3 linked regions of the Homo sapiens genome follow. The protein of the gene in region 1 interacts with the protein of each later gene in a pairwise test. Each region holds a gene or a part of one and is shown on either strand. Other genes may lie near its edges. The genes, in order: ADAR, UPF1 and DICER1.

Evidence for each region.
Region 2: the proteins of ADAR (region 1) and UPF1 interact in binary tests that used the Homo sapiens proteins (3 or more experiments, as listed by UniProt).
Region 3: the proteins of ADAR (region 1) and DICER1 interact in binary tests that used the Homo sapiens proteins (3 or more experiments, as listed by UniProt).

Annotation. Positions count from the first base shown.
Region 1 is NC_000001.11:154,581,939-154,592,566, forward strand, and holds the end of ADAR (double-stranded RNA-specific adenosine deaminase), read right to left. Parts: intron 8,472-10,628; coding exon 8,246-8,471; intron 7,991-8,245; coding exon 7,819-7,990; intron 7,525-7,818; coding exon 7,431-7,524; intron 6,736-7,430; coding exon 6,613-6,735; intron 6,321-6,612; coding exon 6,187-6,320; intron 4,426-6,186; coding exon 4,243-4,425; intron 3,928-4,242; coding exon 3,815-3,927; intron 3,407-3,814; coding exon 3,279-3,406; intron 3,106-3,278; coding exon 2,868-3,105; 3' UTR 119-2,867; downstream 1-118. UniProt on the Homo sapiens protein: Catalyzes the hydrolytic deamination of adenosine to inosine in double-stranded RNA (dsRNA) referred to as A-to-I RNA editing.
Region 2 is NC_000019.10:18,854,055-18,864,682, forward strand, and holds part of UPF1 (regulator of nonsense transcripts 1), read left to right. Parts: intron 1-522; coding exon of another isoform or gene 523-546; coding exon 547-655; intron 656-824; coding exon 825-984; intron 985-1,069; coding exon 1,070-1,188; intron 1,189-1,870; coding exon 1,871-2,035; intron 2,036-2,131; coding exon 2,132-2,246; intron 2,247-2,822; coding exon 2,823-2,966; intron 2,967-3,265; coding exon 3,266-3,479; intron 3,480-6,266; coding exon 6,267-6,384; intron 6,385-6,771; coding exon 6,772-6,928; intron 6,929-7,955; coding exon 7,956-8,098; intron 8,099-9,383; coding exon 9,384-9,558; intron 9,559-10,115; coding exon 10,116-10,197; intron 10,198-10,628. UniProt on the Homo sapiens protein: RNA-dependent helicase required for nonsense-mediated decay (NMD) of aberrant mRNAs containing premature stop codons and modulates the expression level of normal mRNAs.
Region 3 is NC_000014.9:95,152,357-95,162,906, reverse strand, and holds the start of DICER1 (endoribonuclease Dicer), read left to right. Parts: upstream 1-5,377; 5' UTR 5,378-5,677; intron 5,678-10,550. UniProt on the Homo sapiens protein: Double-stranded RNA (dsRNA) endoribonuclease playing a central role in short dsRNA-mediated post-transcriptional gene silencing.

The sequences.
Region 1 (10,628 bases):
ACAGCCCTGTCCCCCACAGGTTCATGTCAGATGCCACTGGTGCTGTTATCAGAAACCCCAGGGCCACAGGTCCCTTTGTTCCCATTTTCACCTCCCCCAAGAAACCAGGACTTAAAACTTTCTAAGAATTCAGATTCTTGTTTTTTTTTTATTTATGAGGAATGTATATTGTTAAGTCACTGTTATCAAGGGACACATAAAAGCAGAATCATAAAACTGGACTGCAGCCATCATCACAGTACCCGAGTCTATGCTTGGGGGTCTTCCTCACTCTGCTCTTGGAGTCACAACCAAGACTCCAAAAAACCAACGAAGTCCCTTCAATGTGAGTAAAGGAAACAGCTTCAAGCACTGACAATTTTTACAAGTGATTATTCAAGGAATGCACAGTAGCCACAGTTCAGACAAATCAACTACAAAAATCATTAAAAAGAAGAGTAGGGAGGGTCACTGCTTATTAAAAACAAAAGACTGGACAAAGAAAGTGAAGATAACAGTGGGCAGAAGCTCTGCCTCCTCTGTCCTGTGTGACTCAGAGGGGCATGGGGGCGCAGGGATGTGCGATCTGACACGGCTCGTTTCCAGCAGATGCGTGGAATTCAGGGATGCCTCGCTCTCTTCCTACAACAGAAACTGAATACTACAGGCTTGCTAGATAAGATCTTGGGGGTGAGTGGGGGTTCTGATCTTGTGAGAGCCTGTGTTCCCAGTTAAAGAAGAGGCAGCTGGCCAGAGCTCTGCTGGAGAACCTAATGCCCAAGATGGACCAGAGAGGCCAAACAACCTGAGGACTCAGCAGGTGACAACCCTGTAGCCTGAAGAGGAGAGGGGCTGCGCTGCCTTCTGATGCTGAGAACCACAGACCTCTCTGCCCTGGATGTGGGTGCCAAGACTGATTTACTGTGCCCCCAGCAGACCCAGAGCCAGGGAGCAGGCCTCTTCCACTCCAGGAGACAGGCGCCACTTCCCTACCAGTTCCTTGGGATGCTTTGGTGTTCTGCAAAGGCATCCTTAGTCTATTTTTAGAACTTGCATTTTCTTACTTTGGTCAATTTTTGGTCAAAAGTACAGAGAGCATAGAATAAAAGCAAAGATGTGAATGTCTCTACCAGACAGAGGATGACCTAGTCAGCAGTTTGGAGGGAAATCATCTGAGGGTGCTGGCTCAGCACGTTCCCAGATGAAGGTCTGTCATCTAAAGGAGAGAGGCAGGCTCAGCTCCTGAAGGTCGCAGAGCCTCAGTAGTCCTCCTGAGTGTGTCTAGCTGACTGTTATCGAGGGACACGTAAAAGCAGCATCACAAAACTGGACTGCAGCCATCACCACGGCACCAAGTCTATGCTTGGGCTCTTCCCTGCTCTGCTCTTGGAGTCATGACCAACACTCTAAAAGCCAACAAAGTCCCTTCAACATGAGTAAAGGAAACAGTTTCAAGCACTGACAGTTTTTACGAGTGACTATTCAAAGAATGCACAGGAGCCAGAGAGCCAGACTCCACAGAGAGGCCAAAGGCTCTGAACACACGAGTCAATGTTCATGGAGGTATAGACAAAGGATTCTACCTCACAGAGTTTGAAGACAACCTGCCCTTTCACCCACAACTACTGCTTTCTATGTCAACCCTATAAAGATCAGGTCTGCGCCCTGCCCACGAGCCTACTTCTGAAGCCATCTGGAAAAATGAAAGCACTTGGATAAATGGAAAAGTATGCCTGAATTTTAAATCTGCTCAATTACAGGTTATCTGTAGCAGTTAAGAATCAACATCTATGGCATTCTTTAAAACACTCCTAATTTACATGTGACTTAGTCAACTTCCCTTGGTGTCACTGTCATGAGAGATATTACACCGGGTGGAACAGTGACGTTAAGCCAACAGGATTTTTTGCCCTTATTCTTGCTAAGTCATGATTATCTGAGCAGAGATGATTTTATACCCTCTAGGATTTGTCCCGTTGGCTAGGGTGTACGCCCAGCATTGGCGGGGAAAATATTCCTAGGAATGCTTTAGGAGAAGAGGCAGCTGGAAGCTTGGCAATATTCCAAGGCATGCCCGTGCTCCCTGGGAAGTGGTCTGTGTCATCCTGCCGGGTGAAACCTCTGCTATTGCTTGAGCAGCTCCCTTAACCCAGTCTGGCTGGTTCTAGACTTCCCAGCTGCCGGAGAAAGTGATACACTTCCAGGGAAGCAGCTTTCCTTGCCTTGCCCGCCCTGCAGCTGGCTAAAGTGCAGGATGGGAGGATGGCTGGGCATTATCTGCAGGCTCCAATCACACTTCCGTGGCACTGGGAACTGCAGTTTTCAACTCCTACCCTTACAAATGTTTCACCAAATCCTTTATGTTCACCTCTTTGCCCTCTGAGGGGGAAAAGGAGACATTCAGATCACAAGGAAAGAATCTCAGAAGGGAAAGAGGGGAAGTAGAGGGGTCTGCGTAATCCACAAATGAAATTATCAGTCCCTGACATGATCCAGAGTTGACTGAAACCTAATCAAGACCGCAAGAGGTCAGTGTAGCAAACACAAAGGGAAAGGAAATGGAAACAAATCAAAACAAAACTTTTAAGAGGAAATGGACCGCAGGTGCTCAGTGACTATGTATGCTTTGGGTAGAAAGAAAAGATAACTTCTTAGGTTTCTGCCTCTTCACTTGGGGGAAAAAAGGGGGGCCTGGCCAGACCTTGCCTAGCAATCCCAAAGAAAGCAGGATAAATGGGAACCCAAAGTTTTCAGTATCACCAATTATGGCTTAAAAAGAAAAAAAAAGGAGAAAAAAAAATCCCCTGACCATGTGATGAGGAATGCTACGACCTACCTCTCTCACACCCTAGTATGACACACCCTAATCCATCTGTCACTGGAGCATACTATACTGGGCAGAGATAAAAGTTCTTTTCCTCCTGGGGTTTGCTAATCCAGTTCCCATAGCCCATATCCTTCAGGCCTTTTTTGAAGTAGTTCTTGGCCGTCTCGTAGTCACGGGCAGCTTTCTTGGCCTCACCATAGGAGAGTCTCAGTAGATCCCTGCGGTAACGGAAGGAGCAGAGCTTCTTAAATAGAAGAAAAATGTTCTTTTTGGAGACCCGGGACAATTCATTCCGTGGCCTAGAGAAACAAAAGCACTCATTATTCACCTGGGACCTGTAAGATAAGGAGCTCACAGTGGAGACACCGTGGGAGGGGAGGCGGCTCTCAAGCCCTGAGACTGCAGAGGTATGATGCACCCTTGCAAGTCAGGGCAGAGGCTTGGTCCTCACTGCGCTCTCCTGTCTCCTTACCCATCCACAGTGCCTCTGGTACCGTCCAGGATCTCCAGGTCATAGCCATCAGCCAGACACCAGTTGACGCTTGTCTCCTTAGTCTTCCCGGATTGCCTTTTGGAATCATATATGCTGACTCTGCCAACCTAGGAATCCCAGAAGCAACGGGAGAAAGATGGAAACCTTTCAGGAATAAGATTCTGAAGCAGGGACTCAAGACTCATAGGAGAGAGGAAGTGTGGGGTCATGATCTTTCCCCTGTATTTAGGGTTCTGTTTGGCTAAGACTGAGCACCCTCTAGACATACTAACTCCACCTCGATTCAGATTAATTCCAGACTAAGAGAAGAAAAGCCCTTGGCATCCAAAAGGAAGAAAGTTTAAGTTCTTGGGAGACCAACCAATGTTGGTGGTGGGCCACTGTGGGCAATGTTCCCTTGTGGGCTACCACTGTGGGCAATGTTCCCCTTGCCCACAGTGTACATTTTTCCTCTGTTTACATGACTGCTTGAAAAGGAGGAAAATGTCAGGGAAAATAGAAGGGGGTTATAGCACCTTGGGGTGGTTGACAATAAAGGGATGTCGTAGTCCATCCTCAAATGCACTCCCATCTCTTGTCACACGACAGCAAATAGCACGGGTCAGATGCCCTTGGCTGAAAAGGTAACCTGAGTACAAAAAAGAGAAACATATATACCTGTGTTTGCACCAAATGCTGTTAAGAGGCAGAAGCATGTGGGGATTTTGGAGGTACAAGATATAGTTGTCAAGAAAGAGAAACAGCTGCCTTGTTAGGAAGCACCTTCTGACTGGGGCTACCAGGATCTTCCTACCACAGCAGACTGGACACTCAATCAATTACTGAGGAGTGAATCATGCTCACTTTGATAAGGGAGACAAAACACCTGGCAATAAAGCATGCAGTTTGGGATCTGGGCACAAGAAGGACAGACCAGTTCCAGATCCCAAGGCAGGCCCCTTACCCAATGTGACAGATTTGAGATAAATGGGCTGCAGGAAGTGGGTCAACAGTGCCCCTTGCAGGCCCAGCACGTTCCAGCGTAGGATTTTGTCACTACAGGACATGGTACGGAGTCTCTCCCCGAGCCGAATGCCATCCCACGTAGGCACAATGTCACTGGATTCCACAGGGATTGTGCCTTCTCCTGTGTGAGAGACTTGGGTCAGACCCACAGGCGCCAATGGACCAAACCACTCCCTGGCGTGGTTTCTATCCTCCTTAAGCTTGGGCCACAGGCTACATTCATTCATTCTTCACATATTTCACAGCCCCTGCTATGCGCCAGGCACTATGCTTGGTGCTGGGAAAGAACGGTGAGCAAAACCAAGTAAGATCTTTGTGCTCTTAAAACATCTATGGTGGTGAGGAGATTGAAAGGGAAGAGAATAGACACTAAACCAGTAGCCAGTACATACGGAAGAATTCCAGATGCTGACAGTGCTCTGAAGGCTCTGAGGCAGCTATGACGGAGGACCACAGGGGACACCTCCTGGGACAGCAGCAGCAGGGGAGCCCAGACATGGAGGAGGACAGCTGGAGTAAGTGTTTCAGGCACACAGGACAAAAGCAAAGGCCCCAAGGCAGCCAGCGGATTGGCTGTTCAGGCGCCTGACAGAGAGCCAGTGTGGACAGAGCATATGCGAGGGATGGGGAAAGTGGCATGAGAGGAGGCCGGGTGATCACAGCAGGTTTTGCTTGTATATGCAGTGCAGTGGGAAACCACTATCGGGTTTAAAAAAAAACAAAAAAAAATGCTTTACTGAGATATAGTTCATATGCCATACAGTTCACCCATTTAAAGCATACAATTCAGTCATTTTTAGTATATTCACAGAGTTCTGCAACTGTCACCACAGTCAATTTTAGAACATTTCATCGCTCCAAAAAGAAACCTTCTACCCATTGGCGCAGTCACTCCTCATCTCTCCAACTCTCCCACTCCTGGCCCTGGCAACCACTCATCTACTTTCTGTCTCTATGGATTTGTCTATTCTGGACATTTCATATAAATGGAATCATACAATATGTGATCTTTTGTGACTGGCTTTTTTCATTTGGCATCAAGTTTTCAAGTGCATCCATATTGTAAGCATGTATCAGCACTTCACTTCTTTTTATGGCCAAAATAATATTCAATTTATGGATATATTTGATGTTTTATTTATGAATCCATCAGCTGATGGACGTCTGGGTTGTTTCCACTTTTTTGGCTCTTGTGAGTAATGCTGCCATGAACATTCACATATTAGTTTCCGTGTGGACACAGATCTCCATCTCTCTGCAGCATATACCTAGGAGTGGAGCACCGGCTCCATGGTAACTGTGTCTATACTTTAGGGTATTTAGCAAGGTTTCAGGACCACCATGATGACTGCTGACGTGGCCTGAACGCAATGGAGTGGATGCGAAGAGACAGTAAGGAGACAGGAGAGGATAGGAGAGAAGGAGCCAGTGGACAAGGCAGAGTCAACTGCCAGCTAGACAGGAGGGGACCCCAGCATTTGGCATCCTCATCTGTCAACTCCTCAGGGCTTGGTTGTGCCGCACTCTTCATTTCCTCCCCGCTTTCTTGAGGTAATCCTATGCATTCTCATGGCCATGAAGACCCTATAGGGGGATGACTCCCATATTTCTATTTCCAGCCAAGCTCCCTCCTCTGAGCTCCACATGGGAACCCCCACCTCCTATTTGACTTGGGGATCTCCCAGATCTCCCAAACTAACACATTCAAAATAGAACCCTGATCTTACCACACAGCTCCCTGACCCAGGTCTTCCCTTTCCTGTAAACAGCACCTCTGTGCCCAGTGACTAATGGTAAAATCCTAGCAGCCTTGTAGAGACTTGGGGTCCCTGGACCTTGCAGAGCCTTTTGAGGAAAGGAGGCGGGGGCATGTATCACTCACCGTTCTCCACCTTGGTGCGGAGCTTTCCTTGTTTGGGATTCTCGAAGACAGGGTAGTGGCGGGATTCTGTGCTTTCCATAGCACGGTCGCTGCAGGACTTGTCAAAGAGGGCGCCATCTCCACACGGAGCAGTGCTGAAAAACAGGGGTGGCTGTTAAAACTCACCTGTGGGAAATCTGCAATTTCGTGGGGCTCCAAAACAGTCAGATGTGACAGAAGCAAGGGATGTTTTCTAAGGCCTACCATGGGAGACTGGAGGTGGACAGCAGTACATGTGAGTCATCTACACCTGAATATGGACCTCAAACCCACAGTGGAGTGTGGCTTATTGTATCAGGTTCGATTTACAGGCCAGGAGAGCATTTGGATACCCAATTCTAACAGCCTGGCAGGGCCCACCCTGGCAGCAACAGGAACTGTACAGACCTGATATACAGATGGAATGACACAGTCTTTTTTATTTGGAGCTTTTCTCCTCCCTTAGCAGGTTCAAATATACTATCCTTCGCAGTCTGGGAGTTGTATTTCATTAACTCACTGTAGAGAAACCTACAAAAAGAAAGTCTGGTTAGGAAGGCAGGTTCAATTCTGGGAAAAGCAGTTGTTTCTATAATCTGACCTCCAAATGAGAAAGTAAGGAAAAGTCTCAATGTTGCAGACGTTTCACAGTTTATCAGGTGGAAATTCTCCAGGGGAGACCTCAGCATTTCATAAAGCATAGTTAGCCTTTTGGGTCTCCTTCATTTCTGCTGAGGGCTCCTCGCTATGGCGGCTACAGGGATTCTAGAGCAGAGCAAACTGATTCAAGGACTACAGGAAGCTGTTGCTCCTTTCTAAGTCTCTCCCTTCATAAATTAAAGAAAAGGTGAGCTAGAGGAGAAAGCTGGCAGGGGCATCAAGGTTGTGTAGGTCCTCAAACGGAAATGGAAAGCTGCCTCATCCTCAAGGCCCTGAGGACTAAAAGGTCATTTTGTGTTTTTAGAAAAGAACATGAAGCAGCAGAGTTAGCAGAAAAAAGGACAGCATTTAAAAACAGGCCGAGCAGTGGGAGGCAGCTCAGCTCACAGAGGGGATGGATTCCATCAGACAGGTTCAAATGGACGGGTGAAAAGCAAAGGCTGCCACTGCCACATCATGACCCGTCTGTCTGAGGGGGATTCAGAGGCCGTGTCAGAGCCATGTGGGGCAGGGAACTGGAGCTCTCCACAGCCGGGCAGCCGGGCCACAGCTCTGACCTCGCTCACCTGATGAAGCCTCTCCGGGAGATTATTTCTGCATGGCAGTCATTGACAGTTTCTCCTTTTAGGCTGAGAGAATCTCCTTTCACACAGCGATTCCCTAGGAAGGTGTTTAAAACAGAAATAGAATAATGGAAGGAAACCGATGGAAAACAGGATGAAGGCTATTTGTTCTGAAAGCTTCAAGGCAGAAACAGCCTCAGTTTCTCAGATCCTAGACTCCCATATTCTCTCCTCTAGGAACTAAGAACTCATTCCTCACTCTGAATTGACTGTAGCTAAAATGAAGTCTCTTCTCCCTGCCTTGGACTTACATGCATGGACTCCAGGGGAGGATGAGAGGCACCCGCTTTCAGGCGCCATGGGAGGCGGCATGTCTCAGAGCCTCACTCACCTGTTCCCAAGCTGACGACGACACCCATGTCCTCAGAGTCTTTTTTCATAATGATGGCGGCCAGAATCTTGCGGCCGAGCAAGGAGGGCTGGAAGCTGTTAGTCAGAGTGTTGAAGCACCGGTGGCTCAGCATGGCTATCTGGTCATGGAAGGTGCTGCCAGTGAGAGGGAGCTGTGGGGAAAAGAGGCTGTGTCAGCACCACAAAGCTGAGGCTGTGTCCACCATATTCACCGTGGGCAGGGAGATCAAGCTCTACTTGTCGTGTGAGTCATCTTTTCCTTCTTACATCTAGTGTCCCAGTTACTGCTCTCTCGAGGCTAAGAGTAAAGCCTAGGAATAACTCGCATGACAGCAAGAGCCACCTCCACTTAGGAGTTAGGAGGACCCCCCCGCCCCAAAAAAGGCACCAAAAGTAGACGTCTTAACTGTCTTTGGCTGTGCTTCTGGGGACCTTGAGAGGAGGAGCATAGTTCTTCTGAGACTGGCCCCTGTCACTGGGGTTACCTCTGTGAAACCCATGCGTTCTGCCTTCTCGTTCTCCCCAATCAAGACACGGAGAGCCGCATCTGCTGCTTCCTGCTTGCCTTGCTTCTTGCTGTGTGCGCAGACGGCTGGGAACCAGCGACCCCCAACTTTTGCTTGGTAAACGAACCTTTGGGATGAGAAACAGAGAATGAAGACAAGTGCCAGACCCTGACATTGTTCCAAGGAAGGGTTAGTTTTGCTGAAGATGTGGCCAGTCTTGCAAACATATGGACCCGTCAAACAGAAGCTGTTTCTAAGGCAGCATTTCCTAGATTTTGGTCATTCATGAATCACCACATGATTTGTGCCACATCCAGGTATTACTTGGACTATTAATTAATATTTTTCTCTAAATTGACTTCTTAGAGCCAGCCATTGTGGCTCACACCTGTAATCCCAGCAACTTGAGGAGCTAAGGTGGGAGATCACTTGAGGCCAGGAGTTCAAGACCAGCCTGGGCAACATAGTAATCCCCCAGGCAACATAGCGAGACCCCTGTCTCTTAAAAAAAAAAAAAAAAATTTAGCTGGGCACGGTGGTCTGTGCCTATAGTCTCAGCTACTTGGGAGGCTGGGGTGAGAGGATCACTTGAGCCCTGGAGGTCAAGGCTGCAGTGAGCTATGACCATATCACTGCACTCCAGCCTGCGCGAGACAGCAAGATCCCCATCTCTAAAATAAACAAACAGACTCTAAAAATGTAAATATCCGTAATACTAGGTATGAAAAAAGAGATAAAAATGTAAACACACTGAAATAGGAAACTTTGTTTCACTACTGTAAATGGAAAACCAGTATCACTTGCCACATATTGAAGGTGGCTGTAAAACAGAATATGATAAAATCATGTTATAAAATTCTGACTAGATACTGTTACCTGCAAAGGCTCTGAGCCTGTCCTTACTATAAAGGAAGATTATGAAGTATGAGGAAGGCTTAACGAAATGCTAGCACCAACTTGGACTCTCTTCTTAAGCAGAAATCAGAAGGGACTACCTTTCTCCCCACAAGTCACTGTTACTTCATACACTGTCTGATTTTTAAAGCGCCCAACTCCATTCCCTCATTTACTTCCTATTAGCTCAAGGGGACTTGACCTGGAGAGGTCATTAGGTCAAGGTCGGCCTTAGGCCAGGGACCCAGGTTTTGCTGGGAGTTGTTTTTTTGACTCCTGGCAGGCTTAAGCTAACTCTGGGGTAAGGAATGGATCTTGGGCGCATGAGCTGCGCTGACAATAAAGTGCCCAAGTGGAGCAGGGAGGTGGCTTCTACCGCTCCGGCTGGTAATTTCCAAACACAGAGGGAAGAGCATGGTGGAGCAAAACAGCTTGGAAATGTACCAGACAAGGCATCAAGAATCCTAGCTTTCAACCAGATCCTAATCTACTGGCTGAGAACCCAGCTTTGGATACTCTAACTGCATATAACAGAGGCTTCAGTTTCAAGACTTAGCAGCTCAGGCAGTAAAAGGAATCAACGTTTATGTTCAACCACATGGAGTTTCTCACTGTTCCTTGATGATCCGAAGCAACTAAATGCCTTCACTCTTTTCTTTGTCCATGCTGGCAGGCCCGTGCAGGCCAGTGGGCTTAAGTTCAGAATGAGAGGGACAGTGGCATGAAAAGAAGATGGTGAAGGCGGTCAGGAGGGACAGATTGTGTAGTATCTTTACCTCAGGGATCCAGGAGAATTTCATGACTGCCCCATGTGTTTGAAAAGAATATGAACTCTTACGTGCAAAGTTTTATACTGATATATTTACATATATGATAAAGTTTGTTAATTATGCAACTAGAATCCTTTAGAGCTGTGCTATCCAATATGGTAGCCACTAGCCAAATGGGGCTATTGCCATAAGTGCCTCCTCTCAGCCTCTTTGCCAGCTCTGCGCTTCTCCCACCACAGGATTTAACAGTGTCCTTCGCCTAGAACCCTCAGTCTTTCTCTCTTCATCATCCTTAAAGTCTCAGCTCAGGCAGTACTTCTTGGGGAAGCCCTTCCCCCTCTCCTTCCTAAGTCAAACTGTGCTATAATTGATTCTCGCTGCAACTCCAGCCCTTTGGAATACTTATCAAATATGAGATCTTACATTTCTTTAGGTGACTATTGGTTAATGTTTGGTTCCTGTTCTAAAAAAAATAGAAGATACTCCATAAATAAGTGTTGAGTAAATAAAGTATAAAGATCAGTTAGGAGGCTATTGTGACAGTCTAGATGAGACAGTGGCTTGGATTAGAGTGCTGACGCTGGAGGTGGAAAGAAGAGGAAGGGATTTGGGATAGAAAT
Region 2 (10,628 bases), on another chromosome or scaffold:
TCGAGGGAAGGGTGTTGCCTACCGGCCACAGCCTCCTGGAGGGCAGTTTGCTTGTGTATGTGGAGCCTTTTGCTTGGCCGTACTGGGAGGGGTGTTGTTTCTGTGGAACTGTGAGAAGAGCTGCTGTGGCCAAAGCTGGGTTCTGCGAGCTCTGCCTGCCCCTGCTGGCCACATGTGCAGGAGCTCCCGGTGAGGTCCTGGGGCCCAGGATGTGGCTGCTCCCTGCTGGTGAGCGCTGCTGGCTTCGCTGCCGCCCTCTGCGTCTCTGAAAGGGGCCTAGATGGGTGGCTGGGAGTGGCAAGGAGGAACTCCAGGCTGGCTGGGGGTGGGACACCGGCTCATGGTGAGGTAGAGTCTTTCTTCAAGGATGCTGTCCTTCTGGTCTCTGGTCTGGTGTTGGCTGCACGTTTTTAGCGTTTGGTGCAGAGCCAGCGGTGTCTTAAGTAACTAAATTTTAAAAACGCTGTTTAAAGAGCGTGTACCAAGGGTGGCCCAGAAAGGTCAGCCCGGCTTTTGACAAGGATGCAAACTTAACTCAGCACACAGATTATGGCGATGAGATCGCCATTGAGCTGCGGAGCAGCGTGGGTGCACCTGTGGAGGTGACTCACAACTTCCAGGTGGATTTTGTGTGGAAGTCGACCTCCTTTGACAGGTACGTCTTCTCCCATCACTGCCCCCTGTTCCCTGGTTGCCACCTGTGGCATCTTTATGAGCCCTCCCCGTCACTGTGGAGTGGGGTTCCCCACCCAGCTCTGCAAACTCAGGATGTCGGAGAGGCGGCCACAGCTGTGCGTGTCGCCAACCCCAAACCCTCCTCACAGGATGCAGAGCGCATTGAAAACGTTTGCCGTGGATGAGACCTCGGTGTCTGGCTACATCTACCACAAGCTGTTGGGCCACGAGGTGGAGGACGTAATCATCAAGTGCCAGCTGCCCAAGCGCTTCACGGCGCAGGGCCTCCCCGACCTCAACCACTCCCAGGTGCGCGCCGTCCTCAGCGCGCGGGGCCTCGCCCATGGGCCGGGACGCAAGCGGAGGCTGCCCCTAACGGCCGCTTGTATTGAAGGTTTATGCCGTGAAGACTGTGCTGCAAAGACCACTGAGCCTGATCCAGGGCCCGCCAGGCACGGGGAAGACGGTGACGTCGGCCACCATCGTCTACCACCTGGCCCGGCAAGGCAACGGGTAGGGCTGACACGGCCCTTGCGGGCAAGACCCGGGAGGGCTTTAGGGTGGCCAGATGGAAGGCCTGGTGCTGGGAGCCTTGGGCTCTGTCACACCGAAGAGAGCACGTGGCGGGTAGTGTCGCCATGGTGCCTACCGCTCTCTATGTGACATTATTCGTGTCAGCTCCAACCTTAGGATTGCATTTTAGTAACCAGGTCTGCTACTGGTTTAGAAAACTGGGGGCAGGGGGGGCATGGCTGCAGCAGCGTGAGTTCCGTGTGCGGCACTTTATAGTGTGGCGGGATGGTGCAAGTTCCAGCCTTGGCATTGCTTGCGGTGGGTAGAGCTGTGAAGCCTGGGCTGTCTGGATCTGAGCTCCTTCGGCATCGTGTCATTACTGCCTGTTAAAAATGTCAGGAGTTTAAGGCCAGCCTGAACAGGGTGAGACGTCTCTACAAAAAAAAAATTCAGAAATTAGCTGGGGGTAGTGGCGTGCACCTGTGGTCCCAGCTACTCAGGAGGCTGAGGTGGGAGGATTGCTTGAGCCCAGGATGTTGAGGCTGCAATTAGCTGAGATCACACCACTGCACTCCAGCCTGGGCAACAGAGCAAGACCCTGTCTCAAAAAACAGAGTCTTGGCTTACTACGTTCACCGAGCTTCCTCTGGGTAAGCACTGAGCTGCCCCAATGGTGTTGCAGGCCGGTGCTGGTGTGTGCTCCGAGCAACATCGCCGTGGACCAGCTAACGGAGAAGATCCACCAGACGGGGCTAAAGGTCGTGCGCCTCTGCGCCAAGAGCCGTGAGGCCATCGACTCCCCGGTGTCTTTTCTGGCCCTGCACAACCAGATCAGGAACATGGACAGGTGTGTGTCGAGTCCATCCCTCCCAGTTGGTCCCTGAGCTTCTGCGGGTGACATGTACAGAACTCAGGCACCCTGCTGACCTGCATGTGCTTCCAGCATGCCTGAGCTGCAGAAGCTGCAGCAGCTGAAAGACGAGACTGGGGAGCTGTCGTCTGCCGACGAGAAGCGGTACCGGGCCTTGAAGCGCACCGCAGAGAGAGAGCTGCTGATGGTGAGTGCCCCTCCTGCCTGCAAAAGGGCCTGTGGGCTGGCGGCCTGATGGTTTTTGTTTGGGCCAAAGCACCTATTTGAATTGTTGCTTTGCTTCTGGAAAGAGAACTTAGATGCTCTCTACTTGGCCTCTCTGCGCTCAGTTGTACAGTAAATTAGGGACATCTCGCTGCCTGGAACACGGTCTTCTAGGGAGTCTCCACTCCCTGCCAGCCTCCACTGGGATCCGGCAGTGGATCTAGAACACTCCTGCTCTTTCATAACCAACCAGCCTGAACTGGAATCAGCCTGAGTGCAGGTTCCAGCAGCTCAGCACTGCCCCTTGGAGGCTGTCGTGAGGCGCAGAGCTCTTGGTGTGGAGAGGTTGCCTTCTGTGAAACATGACCGTTTAAGGATCTTAAAAGTTTGTAATCACCACAGCCTGGACCATGTATCTTGTCTGGGAGGGACAGCTTGTTTTTTATAGTGTCAGGGAGGGTGAGAAACAGGAGAGCTTCTGTGTTCTGTCCCACCTGCCCTCCGGGGTCTGGTGGCGTTTACAGTGCAGGTGCCCTGATGCCTCTGCACCCTTCCCCAGAACGCAGATGTCATCTGCTGCACATGTGTGGGCGCCGGTGACCCGAGGCTGGCCAAGATGCAGTTCCGCTCCATTTTAATCGACGAAAGCACCCAGGCCACCGAGCCGGAGTGCATGGTTCCCGTGGTCCTCGGGGCCAAGCAGGTGGGCTGCCTCCCCTGCCCTCCTGTGTGAAAACTCGTGTGTGTGATTCTTGGTGTTTGTCTTTTAAAACACCTTGTATTGACGTAGGATGCCCAGCAGAGTGTGCGCACACTGGGGGCTCCCTGAGGGGTTTATAGAGGGTGGGTTCTGCCAGCTGCACGTCCAGTGTGCGTGGTGAGCAATGCCCCTGTGGCCAGGTGGTGTCCTGTGCATCCTGGGGCCCCTACTTCCTTGCTAGTGTGTGTTGAGGCTGATTCACACCTGAGCTTCTTGACTTGTGGGGGCCCCTGTTCCTACAGCTGATCCTTGTAGGCGACCACTGCCAGCTGGGCCCAGTGGTGATGTGCAAGAAGGCGGCCAAGGCCGGGCTGTCACAGTCGCTCTTCGAGCGCCTGGTGGTGCTGGGCATCCGGCCCATCCGCCTGCAGGTCCAGTACCGGATGCACCCTGCACTCAGCGCCTTCCCATCCAACATCTTCTACGAGGGCTCCCTCCAGAATGGTGTCACTGCAGGTAACGGGGCTCTGCCCAGGGCAGGGGCTTCTACAGAGAAGCGGCATCAAGGGAATGTGGACTGGGGAGAAGGAACTGGCCCATCAGCTTCCCCTGAGCGGCTTCACATAGCCACTGCTTGAGGTCAGGGCACTTTGTGCCCAAGGTCTTGATGGTATGGTCTTGGATCAAGTGGTGTCTCTGGGGCATGTGGGGAGCCTGTGTCCTCTGTAAAACTCAGTCATTGCCTGAGAATTCATCCAAGCCTCATGTGGCAGCATGCACAGCAGCCAGGACAGGCTGTTAGGGGAGCTGAGCCCGGGCCTTAACGTGGGCTGTGCATTCAGTGCTTCATGAAGAACAGCTGTTCTCAGGGCCTGGGCCCCTGGGGCCCGCAAGACCGTGTCCGGCTTCCCTGGATAACACAGAGGCCTCACCTGCCCTTTTTCACTCTGCTGACGCTCACACTGCTGGTGACCCCCTGGTGCTTCTGCAAGAGTCAGCCCAGAGCAGCCAGACTGTGCCCGGATCACAGTAAGAAACGCCCTGGATGAGGAAGTGAACAGTACATCTTACTAAGCCTCGAGTGTTTCACTGTGACCAGATAAAATTTCTCGTGACACCTTTGGGTATGCCGGCGCTTGAAGGAAGTCCTTGTGGACACACCCTGGGTATTCACCCCAAGGTGTTGGGCAGACTTTTTCCAAAAATGATCGAACCTGTCGCTTCATGGAGAACTAGTGGCAACATCTGTTACAGTAGTAAAATTCAAGTGAAAACCAGAATTTTGGAAAACTTAACGTCGCTTGCCATGAGCTTGGTGTCTTCCCAACACCTAGAGACTTTTCTGGTGAGGTCTGTGGGGGTGACAGATGGAATGTTTCCACCATTGCCAGTGAAATGTGTCAGCCTTTGGAAGACCTACTTGACTCGGTGGGAGATCCTTCCTGAATGACCAGCAGAGTGTCACGAAGTCACATGGGGATGGAGTGGCAAAGAGTTGTCACAGGCCTGCAGAAACCCACCTTTGTCCAGCTTGATGTGGCCTCAGGGCTGGAGACTCCCAGCCATGCAGAAAGGCTGTAAAAACAAACCCATCTCCCTTTCCAGCCTCAGGCATCCATGAGGCCTGGCTTCCCCACAGCGTCCCCAGAGCCCAGGAGGGTGGACTGAGCAGAGGTGGACCCCAGGGCCCAGCTGCCTCCGATTCAGCCAGATAGTAAGGAGATTTGCAGAAATGGGAGACAGGACCACTCTTCTTACTTAGCTTATTTTTGGAGAAATAACTAACACGTAATGGGTTATTTTTAAATGAATTAATATATTTTTTAAATTTCCAAGTTTAGAGAATACAGTTATCCAATAAACAAAAGCTGTTTGGACTCCCTAACTTTTGAGAGTGTAAAGGGTCCTGAAAGCTGCCGACACAGCGCCTCATGAACTCCAAACCTGTGAGGTTGGTATTGTCAGGCCTAGTTACAGGAGAAAGTGAGGCTCAGAGCCCACCCCCCGGGTTGGGCCACACCACTCTTTGCCTAGCGGTAGGTCTTGGGAGTTGATGCCACTATTGACATCGCAGGGACACCGCTGTTCCCAGCGCATGGCAAGGCTGAAAACACAAGGCCACAGAGACCTAGCTTGTGCTCTGGGGTGTCTGAGCACTGGCTGGGAAAGGCGTGGCTCGGCGCAGGCTCAGACCCCTCATGGTCCCCAGGGCATCGGCCCAGAGGGCAGACGCTGGTGCACACTGCTCTCTAATTGATGCACAGCACGTAGTTCACACCCAGGAAGTACATTTTAGGAAATTCTCTATTGAAGTGTAAACATGTGGCCACATTACAAGTGTCTGGCTCAATGAGTGGTTACTAAGTGAGCATATTTGGATAGCCAGCACCTGAACCCAGAACCACCTGACCAGCTGTGAGAAGCCGCCTCATCCCTGCAGGTGGCCACTGTCCAGGGGTGCGCATCCACAGCAGCCCCTGGGCTGAGGGACTTCTGAGCTCATCCGGCGGCCCCTGTGCTCGCTGTAACAGCAGTGATCCACTTGGCCTCATTTTCAGCTCGACGTGGGATCATATGATGTGTCCTGGCGTGTCTGGCTTCCTCTGTCCATGTCAGGCTGGTGCTGTGCAAAAACACCGGTTTTCTCCACTGATGGAAGCTCCCAGTAGAGTGAGGAGGGCACCTGTGAATTGAGAAACTGGTTTTACAGTTTTAAGGAAACGCAACAGGGCCCAGAAAAGCCAAGATGAGCATGAAGAGCCCGAAGAAAGTGGCTGCTCACATGGCAGGACGCCCCGGCCCCCAAGCTGCAGTGTTGGGCCCCGGCCCAGGAGGGAGCCCAGAGGCAGAGCCACCGGTCAACAGGCCCTCAGCAGGAATGGACAAGGCTGCAGGGCAGGGGGACACTGTTGGCTCAACAGTGTCACACACAAGTCAGTTGTAGGGGCTGTGGCGCCTTTAAGGCAAGCTTCTGGAAGGAAGCAGGAGAATATCCTGTATCCTGGGGTTGGCAGAGATCCAGGCTGCAAGAAAGCCCTGGCTGAGACCCTGTTCCCTGTTCAGGGGCTGAGCCAGCTCTGTGCTGGCCATGGTGCTCTCGGTGGCCTCTCCTCAGCCTTGCCCAATCCTGGGCATCTCTGGCCAGGGGACCGGCTCAGGTGACCTCACCAGGGCCTCACAGATCGAAGTCTCCTGCCCCAGGACCTGCAGCACTGTAGCGTAGCAACTACATTGCCCTGTGTCTGAACTCATTTGAGGCGGGCTAGGGCTTTTGAAGTGTTACTTCTTTCCCTCCCCTCACAGCGGATCGTGTGAAGAAGGGATTTGACTTCCAGTGGCCCCAACCCGATAAACCGATGTTCTTCTACGTGACCCAGGGCCAAGAGGAGATTGCCAGCTCGGGCACCTCCTACCTGAACAGGTGAGCAGGGACAGGCCCACCGGCGTCTGCAGGTCTTGGGGACAGCTTGAGAGGTTGTTGACCCATTCTACTTATTTTTAACATGGGACTGAAACTTTTTTTGCCTTCATTTCCTGTTTAGCCTGTTTAGACTCTAAACCGTGTTGTTTCTGCCTCCTTTTCCATTGTACTTGTTTTTTATTGGGCAGATACTTGCTAATCCCACATGGCAGCCGTTTCTGCCCCTCGAGACTCCCCTGGTGAAGGCTGGGGAAGCTCAGCTGTGCAAACGCCAGTGATGGCAGCTGCCTTCCCGCAGGGTGTTGTGTCTGCACCCCTCACGGCCTCCAGCCTCAGGGCTCGGGATCCCACAGGTGGAGCCCAGCACTGACAGCCTGGGTTTCTTAGGACCGAGGCTGCGAACGTGGAGAAGATCACCACGAAGTTGCTGAAGGCAGGCGCCAAGCCGGACCAGATTGGCATCATCACGCCCTACGAGGGCCAGCGCTCCTACCTGGTGCAGTACATGCAGTTCAGCGGCTCCCTGCACACCAAGCTCTACCAGGTGCGCTGCGCCCTCGGGCACACTTGGTCTCCTGGGCCATGCAAGGGTATTGACCCTTGACCTTTAAGTTACCCCCCAAGAGGGGCCCGTCCTGGCTGGAGCTCAGAATGGCCCAGGAAGCACCAGCTGGCCCACCCTCTGGGGAGGGCACAGACAGCACATCCCCACAGACCCTGCGAAATTCCACATGATCAGGACAGAGACTTTGAGAAATACATCACAGGGATCAGAAACATGGGCTGAGATTGGCACATCAAGGTGTTTTCTCGGGATGGTTGAAACAAGTCCAAGGTGGAACGGCAGTGGTCTGTGCCTGCCACACACTGGATGTTGTGCTGTGGAGACCGTGGTGTTCACACCTTTATTGACACCCGGATGAAACACCCACTGCGGGTGTGTGGGGAGGAGGCACAGCTCTGCCTCCATGAGGAAATGAGCCCAAGTGCTGAGTCTGAGTGGCCACATGGCAGTGGTTTCTGTTCTGTTTTTGAGCACGGCTCAGGTTCTCTGGGATGAGCACGTGTGCTCTTAGTGCTGAGAAACAAATCTCCGTGGCTAAAAGAGAACAGGCTAGGTGTCATGGCCCACACCTGGAGTCCCAGCACTTTGGGAGGCTGAGGCAGGGAAGTCGCTTGAGGCTAGGAGTTCCAGACCAACCTGGGCAACGTAGGGAGACCCTGCCTCCACCAAAAAAAAATAATAACTGGGTATGGTGGCATGTGTCTATGGTCCCAGCTACTCAGGAGACTGAGGTGGGATCAGCTGAGCCTGGGAGGTCAAGGCTGCAGCGAGCTGAGATTGTACCACTGTACTCTAGCCTGGGTGACAGAGCAAGATCCTGTCTCTAAAAAAAGAAAACAAAACGAAATGGCAGCAGAGCCAGGACAGCCCCTAGGTGCGGTGAGCAGGCGCCAGGCCCCAAGCTCCCGGGTGGGATTTGAGGGTGGGTCTTGGTGTGTTTCCTGCATTTTGGGGGGACTGGGAAGGCAGCCTGCTGGCTGATAGTGACCACAAAGCTCCCTTCCAGGAGGTGGAGATCGCCAGTGTGGACGCCTTTCAGGGACGCGAGAAGGACTTCATCATCCTGTCCTGTGTGCGGGCCAACGAGCACCAAGGCATTGGCTTTTTAAATGACCCCAGGCGTCTGAACGTGGCCCTGACCAGAGCAAGGTAGGGAGGCTGCCTGCTGCATGCTGCCCAGCCGCTCATCGGTCCTCACTTCCCAGGGAATTTGGGGCTAGGGTTGGGGGTTGCCAGGGCCAGAGGTCAGAGGACTCTGAGCAGCAGTTGAGAAACGATGTCTCACTGGAGAGATCTTTGTTTCCGTGTCCTGGGGGTTTGCTGTGGCCCCTGTGCCTCAGCCCAGCAGGACGTATTTTTCCAGGCCCTTCTGGTCTGATTCAAAATAAATCTTGTGTGTGTCTGTCAAGTTGTTTAATCTGAGAGGCTGTAAGTTTTGGTCCTGTCCACTATTTTTGGTTCTAAAATACAACTTTTGTGAACTGATGATAGCAGAAGGGACCCCGAGAACAAGGTGTCCATTCTGTCATCCCACATAAAACTAGACATCAGGCCAGGCATGGTGTCTCACACATGTAATCCCAGCACTTTGGGAGGCCGAGGCAGGTGGATCACCTGAGGTCAGGTGTTCTCGACCAGCCTAACATGGTGAAACCTCCTCTCTACTAAATACAAAAAAATGAGCCGGGCGTGGTGGCACATGCCTGTAATCTGAGCTACTTGGGAGGCTGAAACAGGAGAATCGCTTGTACCTGGGAGGAGGAGGTTGTGGTGAGCCGAGATTGCGCCATTACACTCCAGCCACTGGGCAACAAGAGCAAAACTCTGTCTCCAAAGGAAAAAAAAAAACACTAGACAGCAAGGACCCATTCACCAGCTGGAAGTTGGGGGGACCTGGCCTGTGGCTCCACCCAGCACAGGGAGAGAGCCTGGTGCTCCTTCCGGCTCATATGCGCGGTGGTTCTCCTCTAGGTCACCATGGCTTTGTCATTGGTTACTCCCTCTTTCTAAGGCGCCCTCTTGTTTGGTGGGCAGTATTGGGTGGGTCCCCCCACAGCTTCGTGAGGTGGGCTAGAGGAGCTGGGCATCGGGTCAGTGCCCCGGCCTGCTGGGGGCCCTGTGGGGCCGCGTGTGCCCCGGTGCCTGGAAGGCCGACTCTCTTGACAGCAGGTCTTCTCTCCAAACGTATCCACCCAGCCAGGTGTCTGCCATGGGGCTGCTTAGAGTCGGCCACAAAATCAACCCGTGTGCAGGGTCAGTGGCTTGGCATTGGGCTTTGGGGCCTGTCCCTGTGGCTGGCAGCCTGCCTGCTGCCCGGTCCACGCCTCTGTTGCCTTGGATTTGGGTTCTGAGTGAATGCAGCCTTGCCTCTTGGACCGTCCTGTGAGACGGGCAGCTCTCCACCTGCGTCCTCAGCACTGCGCCCTTGTTGCAGGTATGGCGTCATCATTGTGGGCAACCCGAAGGCACTATCAAAGCAGCCGCTCTGGAACCACCTGCTGAACTACTATAAGGAGCAGAAGGTGCTGGTGGAGGGGCCGCTCAACAACCTGCGTGAGAGCCTCATGCAGTTCAGCAAGCCACGGAAGCTGGTCAACACTATCAACCCGGTGAGCGCCTGCACAGGACAGCAGGGCAGCACGGAGAAACCCGGGCCCAAAACACTGCTGGGAACGTGCCAGCTTGGCCCGTGTGCCCGTGAGCTGAGGGAGGGCTCTCCTAGGGGAGGGTGGGCTCTCCTAGGGGAGGGTGGGCCAGCCCACTTCTTGTCTCCCGAGCCGTGTGTGGCATTTTTGGCTTGGGGCCGCTAAGTCCTGGGTGGCCTCTGGGAATTGGGCTCAGGGCTGCTGTGCTGCATGCAGCAGCCTGGGACCTTGGACACGGGCAGTTGGAAGCTTTGCAAGCCCGGGGTGATCTGGTAGTGAGGGGGTGTGAAGCTTCCTGAGCTGAGGCCCAAGGGTCAGCATCAGAGCCCAGGTCTGCCGAGGAGGGCAGGCGAGACCCAGAGGCCATGAGACAGCAGCTCCCTCCTGTCTCCAGGGAGAGCCCCTGGCACAGTGTCAACACCTCACAGCTGCATACCTGCCACCTCCCAGGCCACCGGGCCCGTGGGAAGTTGTTCCTTCTGTTGAGATGACAAATTCCTCACCTATCTAAACCTTCGCAGGGAGCCCGCTTCATGACCACAGCCATGTATGATGCCCGGGAGGCCATCATCCCAGGCTCCGTCTATGATCGGAGCAGCCAGGGTGAGTCGCTCAGCAGGGGACCTGGCCGACCCCTTGTCCTCACACCGGGATGCTGGCCGTTCCCATGGCTGCAGCTTTAGGTGCCCCCATCTTTCCTTCCCCTCAAGGGCGGTGCCTGGCTCCCTTGGCCTCCCCGCCCCTAGGGCATCTCTAGCCCCGGAACACTCCTGGGGTGTTTGTCTTTAACCAGAGTTTATTCATTTGTGTTTCCTGGTGATCAAGCTAGTTAGCTTTTTCTTGCCTTTTGGTAGGGCAGGGACTGCATGTAGTACAAATAGAACATTTTCATAAAAAGGATTTTTTTTTTCCTTTGGTAAATGCAGGGTGATTTTCATTTATTTTCTTTTTTTTGTTTAGAGACAGGGTCTCCCTATGTTGTCCAGGCTGGTCTCAAACTCCTGCCTCAAGCAGTCCTTCTGCTCAGCCTCCCA
Region 3 (10,550 bases), on another chromosome or scaffold:
TTTACAATCTAAACTATGCCTGCTAGGAAACTCTGTCCCACTTGGAGAGCATCTCAGACAATGGCCACTTTACAATCTAGTCCTGCCTGCCATGGTGCCAGCTCAAACACCCGGTAGATAAAAGCGCTAAGGAGAGTCATGTAGATCCTCACCTGCTTGCTCCCTCCCCTGCATGCCATTCATGCCAAGTCCCACTTTAAAAGCCCCTGCTTTCTGCCCCAAAAGCAAATCAGTACCTTAAGGCAGGAACCTGCACTTTTCCCCCTACGTTAAGCTTTGGAATAAAAAGTCACTTTCTTTACGGCAGACCTCACTCTTGTTAATTGTGCTCTGTAAGCAGTGGGCTGCTGAACCTATGACTGGGTTACAATTCCATTCTTTTTTCTAAATATATTATTGAATTCTATTCTAAAGAGCTCTTTATTGCCATTTATTTTTTTTTTTTGAAAGTGTGGACTCATAGATTCCATTTTAACCCATGGGATATAATCTCCTGCTACTGTGATTTATTTTGATGTTCAAATTGTCCCAGATTTGGCCAACAGGAGCCCTTTCAAGCTGATTGCTTTGTCCTTTTGAACTGTCTCCACCATTTCTTGAGCATTTCCACACTTTCTAGCACAAGATGTTCCAGTCTCATACTATACTTTCTCTGGCCCAACCCTAAAATCAGCCATTTCTCTAAAGCGCCCTGGTTCCTTTTCATGGAGAAAGGTGTTTAGAGCTAGGTGTTAGGTGTTCTCTTGGCTAATGTGGTGTTGCTGCACCAAGACCTTCTCACTGGTTAGGCCTAGGAAATATATGTAAATACATTTATAGACATGTGTGTGTATATAACTGACTGTGGAAAAATTACACACCCTATTCCCTCACCCTCAACAATTAACAAAGAAGACTTCAGTGACCAAATGTCGGGGGGCGTTTCCCCACACACCAAGCAAGCAATCGATTCTGCAGCAGACACCAACTGGGTGTCCTCCAATTCCCTTCTAACCTGGAGATAGCATCAGATCCCACAGGTTGAGGCTCACTCCCCAACACATCCCAACAACTGCCCCACTCTGTCCCTGGCCACTGACCAGTCCCAAGTCTGGGCCTCCAGAACTTCCGACAGGCTTCAAGTTGTGGTTGCCATGACCCCCTCTTGGGTTAGATTAATTTGCTAGAGCAGCTCACTGAACTCAAGCAAACACTTATGTTTACAAAAGATATTACAAACAATACAGATGAAAAGATAAATAGGATGAGGTGTGGGAGAAGGGGCTCAGACCTTTCATGCCTTCCCTGGGTGCACCACCCTCCCAGGAACCTCCTGGTGTTCAGCTATCTAGAAGCTCTCCAACCCTGTCCTCATGGGTTTTTATGCAGGCTTCATTACATAAGGGATGACTGATTAAACTATTGGCCACTGGTGATAACCTGACCTTCAACCCTTCTCTTCTCCAAGAAGTTGGTGATAGGCTGAAGGTCCAACCCTCTGATCCTGCCTTGGTCTTTCTGATGACCAACCCCATCCTAAAGCTACCTAGGGGCTCCCAGCCACGAGCCAACTCATTAGCATACAAAAGACATCACTTCGGTGTTTGTAAGAAATTTAGGAGTTGTACACCAGAAAATGAGGTCAAAGACCAAATATATATTTCAGAATCTCACAAAATATATAGATACACACTTTTACATTTATATTTATTTTTATATCTACATGTATTAAGAACCATGACTTTACATGAATATCTCCAATTCCAATCCAATCACACAAACTTCTTGCTTTTCTTATTTCTGTACTTGTAACTCCCTTCTCCAACAGGGAAAAATCTGGCTCCCATTAGCCTCAATATAGTTTTTCTTTGTGTAGTTCTCCTGTATGTAATCAGCTGTCTGGCCTTGCAGGGCTGCTGCCCCACCTTCCTTCTTTGGGCTCAGACTCCTCACTGAACTGACAGCCCAGTCCAATATGGGAGTGACTATATTCTCCCATGTAGATGGAAAAGCAGAGAGAACAAGTTAGCAGAGATACATAGAAAACAATCACAAGGGGCACAGAGAGTACCTTTTGGGTTCCTGGAAGCTTTTCAATGACTGGTTCTAGTTTTTGCTAAGATGTGGCTGTATTCCTGTTCTGGGCTTTTGTGAGAAGCACCTATATCATTATGGTAAATTCTCCCTTTTTGGTTGCGCTAGTTCAGCTTGGTTTCTGTTACTTGCAAACAGAGAGTCTTAAAGGTATATTTAAATCCTGGCTTGTTCTACAAAAAATAAACCAAATTGTGGAAATAATAGGGGCTAAGGGAAAATAAAAATTAGCCCATAGAAAATGCATGCCACATGGTACTATACCGTTGCTTAACACGGGCTGAAATATAGGCTTTAAGATTTCTAGTGATCCAAACAAAGTGTGAAACAATATCCCTTACAAGATTTTATGTCTCTGGATTTAAAACAAACCAGCAAGTGGAGCATGAATAGATAGACCATTAGAACGGATACAGAGTCCAGAAGTGAACTGCTCAATAAATGACTGTGTAGCCACCTGGACAAAAAAATTAATTTGGATCTATACCTCACCCTATATATTAAATCGATTCCAAATGGATCAACTTTTAATTCCAAAAGACTTAAAGTCTAAATGTCCATCAATAGAGAATTGGTAAATTATGGTATGGATATACCTGCAATAATATGTTAAGGGGGTTGAAAAAACAGCAAGGAGCTCTCTATGTGTTACTATAAACATGCCCCCCGGATACATTAAGTAAAAAACACAAGGTGGAGTAAATATGTATGGCATGCCGGCATTTTTCTAAACAAGGAACACAAAGGGCATATCTTGGCTCATATATACATAAACATTTTGAAGAATGAGCAGGAAACAGTGGTCACCTATTTGTGACACTAGGACAGGTGTGAGGGACATCTTTTTCCACTGTGTATCTTTTATAGGCTTTCTGATAAATGAATAATATGGATATACTATTTATTTTAAAAATAAAAACTGAAATTGATAAAAATCAGACAAACCGGCCAGGCGCAGTGGCTCATGCCTGTAATCCCACCACTTTGGGAAGCCGAGGCAGGTCAGGAGTTCGAGACCAGCCTGGCCAACATGGTGAAACCCCGTCTCTACTGAAAATACAAAAATTAGCCGGGCGTGGTGGCACATGCCTGTAACCCAGCTACTTGGGAGGCTGAGGCAGAAGAATCGCTTGAACCTAGGAGGCAGAGGTTGCAGTGAGACGAGATTGCGCCATTGCACTCCAGCCTGGGCGACAAGAGTGAAACTCTGCCTCAAAAAAGAAAAAAACAAATACATAAAATTAAAAAAATAAAAAAATCAGGTATACCTGCTGATGGAACAAGCAGCCTGGCTAGTCTTGACAGATTGCAAGAGGGCAACCAGAGGGGCTGAAGTTGTACCAGCCCACAAATTTCCACTGCCAATAGAGTCCAGTGCCTACCCCCATACTGAGATGCTGTCCTTCTCATAAAGGCTTATCAGGGAGTCCACCGAAGAGATATCTACATTTGGGGATAAGTTAAGACGATGTTCTTTAAGCCAGACACTTATTTAACGCCCACCGATATTTTAATTCCTAGCTACAAAGAAAACCTTATATGTATGACTGGGGTCTTAAAGGTATGACATGCTCACCGTGCTTGACATATAAGAAACTACTTTTTTAAATACATGGGTCTGCCAGGAGCATCCTACTTCCTAATTTTGCCCATAAATATGCTACTTTCAAGTGAAACCTTAAGCCAATTCATAGTAAATATATTATCAAAATTTTAGCACAGTAATGACTGAGCACACCAGCCTCAAAGCCAGACTACGTGGGTTCAAATCTCAGTTGTTCACTTACTGGCTACTTACTTGTTGGAAGTTATTCCATTTCTTCGTCTGTTAAAACAGGAAGCAGGCTGGGTACGGTGGCTCACGCCCGTAATCCCAGCACTTTGGGAGGCCAAGGCGGACGGATGACAAGGTCAGAAATCGAGACCATCATGGCCAACATGGTGAAACCCCGTCTCTTCTAAAAATACAAAAATTAGCTGGGTGTGGTGGCGTGCCCCTGTAATCCCAGCTACTCGGGAGGCTGAGGCAGGAGAATCACTTGAACCTGGGAGGCGGAGATTGCAGTAAGCCCAGGTCGCACCACTGCACTCCAGCCTGGAGACAGAGTGAGACTCCGTCTCAAAAGAAAAAAAAAAAAAAAACAGGAAGCAGTTTCAGCACCTACCTCACAATGTGCACACAGTTAAAGCACCTACCTCACAGGGTGCACACAGTTAAAGCACCTACCTCACAGGGTGCACCTAAGGATCACAGGCATGCAAGCCCTAGATCAGCCTGCCCAATGGCAATATAATGCAGGCCACAGGTGACATTTAAAATTCTGTAGAACCCACACTAAAAAATAAACAAATAAAACTTTTATCCCAATATATGGAAAAAGTTTATCACTTCAACATGTAACAATTTTTTGAACATTATTTGGTAAAGAATGCATATATCTCGATTCCGACTAGCCATACTTTAAGTGCTCAGGAGCCATGTGGGGCTGGTGGCCCCAAACTGAACAGCACAGCCCAGGCAGCAGGGGCGCATAGTAGGTTCTGCTCACGCCCATGGTCTGAAAGAAACACGGTTGCAGTTGCTGTGAGCACACCTCACCTGGAGCAAACCGGCCTATCAGGGGGTCCACTGAAGAGATGTCTACATTTGGGGATAAATTAAGAAGATGTTCTTTAAGCCAGCCACTTATTTAATTCCCACCGATATTTTAATTCCTAGCTTCAAGCTGTGGTGCGCGGTTCCGACCTATGCAAATGAACAGCTTACAAACAGAGGGCCACCATCTATTTCTCATTATCTGGGGATCCCGGTTGGGGTGGGGGGCGGAAGTGGGTGTTTGTTATTTCCCCAAATGCGGAGGCCCCTGCACCACTAACGCGAGGAAACGCAGGCGAGTGGGAAGGTACTTTAAAAAGGGGAGGGAGGTGCTCAGAGGGAAGCTAAGCTCTCCGGGAAACAATTACGGCCACGTTACGGTCTGTGGGTGCCAGAAGGAGCAACAATGGAGGCAGTCGAATTCCGAGAGCTCAGAGAGTCTGCCAAACTTAGCCGGCCTCGGCGCGCGGGTTCCCGGGGGCCCCAAAAACTCCGGGCAACTGCGGCCCAACGCCAAGGTCCAGTCCAGGCGCTGGGCCGCAAACGCCTCTCCGGCCTCCGCGCGCGCGCCCGCTGTCTCCCTGCTCCTGAGTGGCTGGGGGGCCGGGATTAACCTTTCACCGCCAGGCCCTGTCCAATCACAGGCTCGCTCTCATGCCGCCACGGGGCGAGCGGAGCGTGGGGGCGCGGAGGGGCGGTGCGGGAGCCAGTGGGATTCTCCAAGCGGCTGTGCGCCGTTGCCGCGGGCCGTGCGCTGGCTGCCGGCCAGCCGGGCGCTGCGCAGTCTCCGCAGGCGCCGGCGGGAGGGGTCGAGGCGGAGGCGCGGCGCAGGCTGCTGCAGGCCCAGGTGAATGGAGTAACCTGACAGCGGGGACGAGGCGACGGCGAGCGCGAGGAAATGGCGGCGGGGGCGGCGGCGCCGGGCGGCTCCGGGAGGCCTGGGCTGTGACGCGCGCGCCGGAGCGGGGTCCGATGGTTCTCGAAGGCCCGCGGCGCCCCGTGCTGCAGGTGAGGCGGGCTCCCGCGGAGCAGCTTTGTGTCCGGGGCGGGGAGCGGGTCGCCTGGCCGCGCTCCCGCCTCCGCGCGGAGGCCCGCGTGCCGGCCATGGCCCCGAGCCGCGCGTCCGGGCCTGGCGGGCGCTGACGAAGGGCGCGGCCTCGCCTGCCTCGTCGTCCCGCACAGCGCGGCCTGTGGACCCGGCGTCTGCCCGCCTCGGCTCTGCTCCTGGGCCCGGACCCCGGCGCCTCCCCGCGAGGCAGCCCTGGGAGACTTTCCGGGCCGCCGTGGCGTGGTGGGGGATGCCGGCGCCTGTCCACTCCCCGGCCTGGCGAGGCCTGGGGCTCTTGACAGGTCCCGTCACGCGCGCTAAGGTGGCGCGGGAGCAGCGGAGGTGGAGACGCGCGCCTGACCTGCCGGAGCACCCTGGGGCCCTCCTCTGATGGGGCCGCTGTGCCGCGCCCGGAGGGGACGAAGCTGGGCTCTCGGTCCCTCCCGGGAGGGTCCTGTGTGATTACTGTCAGGGGACCAGATTGGGGCCCTGGGGGGCGGGCAGGGGCCGAGGCCATTCTTTTGCCTCTCCCCTCAGATGTTTTTGTGCCAAAATGCCTAGACCCTGCGGAGGACCCTTTCTTCAGGGTTTTTGATTTTGGGGAAATCAGTGTATGTTTTAAGTTAGCACATCAGATTTCTGTAGATTGTCCAGAAAAGCTGAGTTGCCCTGATGGCTCTGCCTGGAGGTCAGAGCCAGCAAACCACTGAGTGTGTCCTTAGGAACCTGAAGATCCGCGGAAACGTGGAGATGAGTTGGAGGGTCCTATTTGTGTAGTGTTAACTCCGTGCTTTTGTGGAGAGAGTTGTGGTTAAAGGGACACGTTACTGGTCTACACGATAAGTAAGTGTTCTTAGGACTTTCAGGTTTTAAAAACATTCATCTGATGAAAGAGGATCACTTGGACGCCTATGCTTCTGTCTTCGAATATTCTGAATCTTTACAATCCTGATTGTCAGGTGTCTTCGTGGTGCTTGTTTTCAAACAGTGGAAAAGGACTCAGGTTAGGATTTAAGCAACTCGGAAAATATTGTTAAAAATGTGCTGTTAAAACAGGTTAGCTATATTGAATATGTATTGGTGTAAACGTTAAGTTTTCTAAATAAAAATATACATCCTCACCAAAAAACTCAGTTTATTAAAAGATGGGTTCGGGATAAGCCAGGTCCTAGAGAATAGTAATTTTCAATATTATTGATATCTTTGGAAATTAGGTTCTGGAATAGCCAGTTTATTTTGCAAAGTCTACTTTAAAGCTACCTGTGGCACGTGTGTATTATATGTAATATGTGCTGTGTACATGCACATACATACACAATTATTTCAAAACTTCATTTTAGGGCATATTCCATAAAACTCAATAGATAAAAAAACAAAAAACTAAAGATTGCTTTTAACATGGTCACTATAAACATTGATCATGGTAACATAGGTTTATAGATTTACTCACGGCACCAAAATGCTGTTTTAAGAAGAGAACAGTTAGTCCATTTTAATTTGGGGAGAAAAGACATTTTCCTACAATCCTTTTTAGTAAGGGCCTGCTTTACTTTTTATGCTTCCATCTCATGTTTGAAGGGTAAGCCCTGACTGCTCTGCTGTATTTTGCCCGTGGCTCAATGTGTGAGTTGGGTAGCTAGGTTGTTTTGCTATTATTGAGCTTTATTGTCTTGGTTTTAGAAGACATTGTCTTTTGATGTGGCTCATGATTCTTATTTGACAGTGATTTTGTCATATAGTGGGTTGTACAGTACTTGTAGTGCTATCTTCTAGAGAGGGTGACTTTTATGGCGTTGGGATGTTTTATTCTCTACCACTATCTGACATGTGAGGTGCTTGTTTCATTTGAGAAAGTAGATATTTCGTAGACAGTCTCTCACTTGCGACCCTACCATGTCATGGTCACGTTTCCACTTGCTCATGGCAAAGGAGATAAGGGAAACGTGTTATTGAGTGCCTCCTTGTTATGCGCCAAGATGTTTCAGGTTCTACGTACATTCTCTTCTAATCCTCACTGTGACCCTGCGATCAACTCGATATTGTCCTTGTTTTATAGGCAAGGAAACTAAGAGTCAGTGATTATTACCCCAAGTTAGGAATCTCGAAGTGGCAGAGCCGAGATCGAATTGTGGTTTGGTTTCAGAATCTTTGGAGGCATGCTTTTTGTATTGCATTACTGTTCCAAATGGATTTCAGGGCTGCATCACGTGTAGTGACTCCTCAGTTAAGACTTGTGGAATGAATGAAGCTGTGTCTAACCTTAAATGTTCAGGTGAATGAATGGTTATTTGAATATTTCAGATAGTTGTTTTTTTTTTTTTTTGGCATGGTAAAATATACATAACACAACGTTGAACCATTTTAAGTGTACAACTAGCTGGCATACAGTACATTTACATTGTTTTTAGTCATTACCAGCATCCATCTCCATACTTTTTCATCTTTCCCAACTCAAACTGTCCTCATTAACACTAACTCCTGATTCCATCCTACCTTCAATGCCAGAGAACCACCATTCTACTTCCTGTCACTGACTACTGGAGAAACCTCAAAATAAGTAGAGTCATACAGTATTTGTTCTTTTGTGTCTGGCTTATTTTACCCAGCATAGTGTCTCCACGGCTCATCTGTGATGATTTAGATGTCAGAATTCCCTTCCTTGGAAAAGCTGAATGGTATTTCATTGTATGAATATACTGCATTTTGTTTATCCATTCATCTGTCCATGGCCACTTGGGTAGCTTCTATCTTTTGGCTACTGTGAATAATGGTGCTGTGAACGTAGGTATACAAATAATTCATTGGAGTCCATGCTTTCCCTTCTTTTAGACATATACCTCAAAGTGGTCACATTGTTTCTTGATCTTCAAAACACTAGACTAGACTCAGAATTTATTGCAGTATGAGTTTTCTCAGGGTTCCTCCAAGCAGTGATAATTTCCTACAAACAACTCCTCTGTCAGTAAAATCTGTAATCTCTCTGAAGCCCAGGGTCGACTCCTTTTTACGATCTTGGTTCCAATCATAGTGTCTGGCAGGTATTCAAAAAACTGATCAAACATGGAGTGATGTGCTTTATTGAATGCCAGAGGAAGATATTGGTGAGGTCTTTAATTTGTATAAAGAGAAAGTTGGAGCCAAGTGACTTATTTTGTTTACCTTTTGCTGTGCTTTTTGGACATTCAAGAGCTTAGTTCATCCTGAAAGCCCAGTGTATGTATTATACTCGCTCTTATTCACAGGTTTCTTTGCAATTTACGACTTGCCAAATGACTAGTCTTCTGAGGCAGCATTATTTTCTTGGTATTCCACCTCCTTAGCCTGTGGGGCTTGGACCTTTTGATTTTTTGATGGCTAGTTTTCACTTCTTCCAAATTTCTGCTAAGACTCTAGTATTAGTACATTTATTTAATAGTTTATGATGTCTATTTTGAGAAAGGATTTGAAATGGTCTTATAATAGGAAAGTATTAGAGTACTATGAAAATGGTAAAGGTTGGTAGTATAGAATGTGGAGGCAGAGAATTAGATGAATGATTGGGGCAAGGAAAGGTGAGTGCTGCATGTAACTCACGTTGATTAATGAAAGGAAGCATACCAATTTGAAGCAGATTTTTCTCTTGTATGAAGAATAATCAATCTTTTGGATTATTACATTAAATAACATTAGCAATATATGGAGAAAATGTTTTACATTTTACAAACGATAGAGAAACATTTTTTCACATGCCATTTTAGAGAAACTGGATAAAAGCCTCAGGCATAATAGAAAAGCTTTAGTAATACAGGTGTTCACTGTTCCAGTGGTTTGATTCATTAATTTCTTTTGGGTGGTGTCCCTCGAATATCAGTTGTCTCATTCAGGCTGTTGACAGATGCTAAATAACAATCCATTCAGGAATAAGCTCTGTGGACAACATGGGCAGTGAGGATTTTCCAAATAGGAATTCTCACCCAGTCTTTTTTTTTTTTTTGAGACGGAGTCTCACTACGTTGCCCAGGCTGGAGTGCAGTGGTGCGATCTCAGCTCACGGCAAGCTCCGCCTCCTGGGCTCATGCCATTCTCCTGCCTCAGCCTCCCGAGTAGCTGGGACTACAGGTGCCCGCCACCACACCCTGCTAATTTTTTGTATTTTTAGTAGAGATGAGGTTTCACCGTGTTTAGCCAGGATGGTCTTGATCTCCTGACCTCGTGATCCTCCCGTCTCGGCCTCCCAAAGTGCTGGGATTACAGGTGTGAGCCACCGTGCCCAGCCCTCTCACCCAGTCTTTAGGAACGTGTGTTGGTCTAAAAAGTAAGACTGGTTGTATCGTGGTGTATACTTGATGAATTAATACAGAAAGAAAAAGATTATTTTTGAGATGTAGCTGGTGAAATTGACATTTTCAGTTATGTAATAAAGCCTTTGTTAAAATAATTCTGAGTGCAAAATGGCTTCCTCATCTAAAATTGTCAATGAATTGTTGGTACTCCTTTAACATGCAGTTACCTCAATATGCATTTTAAATAAGTGACTAAGAAGATGCTACAAAACATTCTCTGAGGATGTCAGTAAGACTGTTACTAGAAGTAAGACATGACAGGCTTAAGTTTGGCCTTAGAGTTTTTTCTTTTTGTTTTTTAGGCTTATAACAGCATTACATGTTCTTGGTTGTGTTAAGGTTTATGGAATAGTAAGGATTAGATTCTTCATGCATGTTCATTACCAGACATGGTGCTTGACATATAGGAGACACTCCGATTTGTTGAGTGAGTAAGTTAATTTATAATACTTTTTGAAGTATTTAGAAGCTAACACAGTTTTGTGGGGAAGAATATTGCTTGCATATTAAG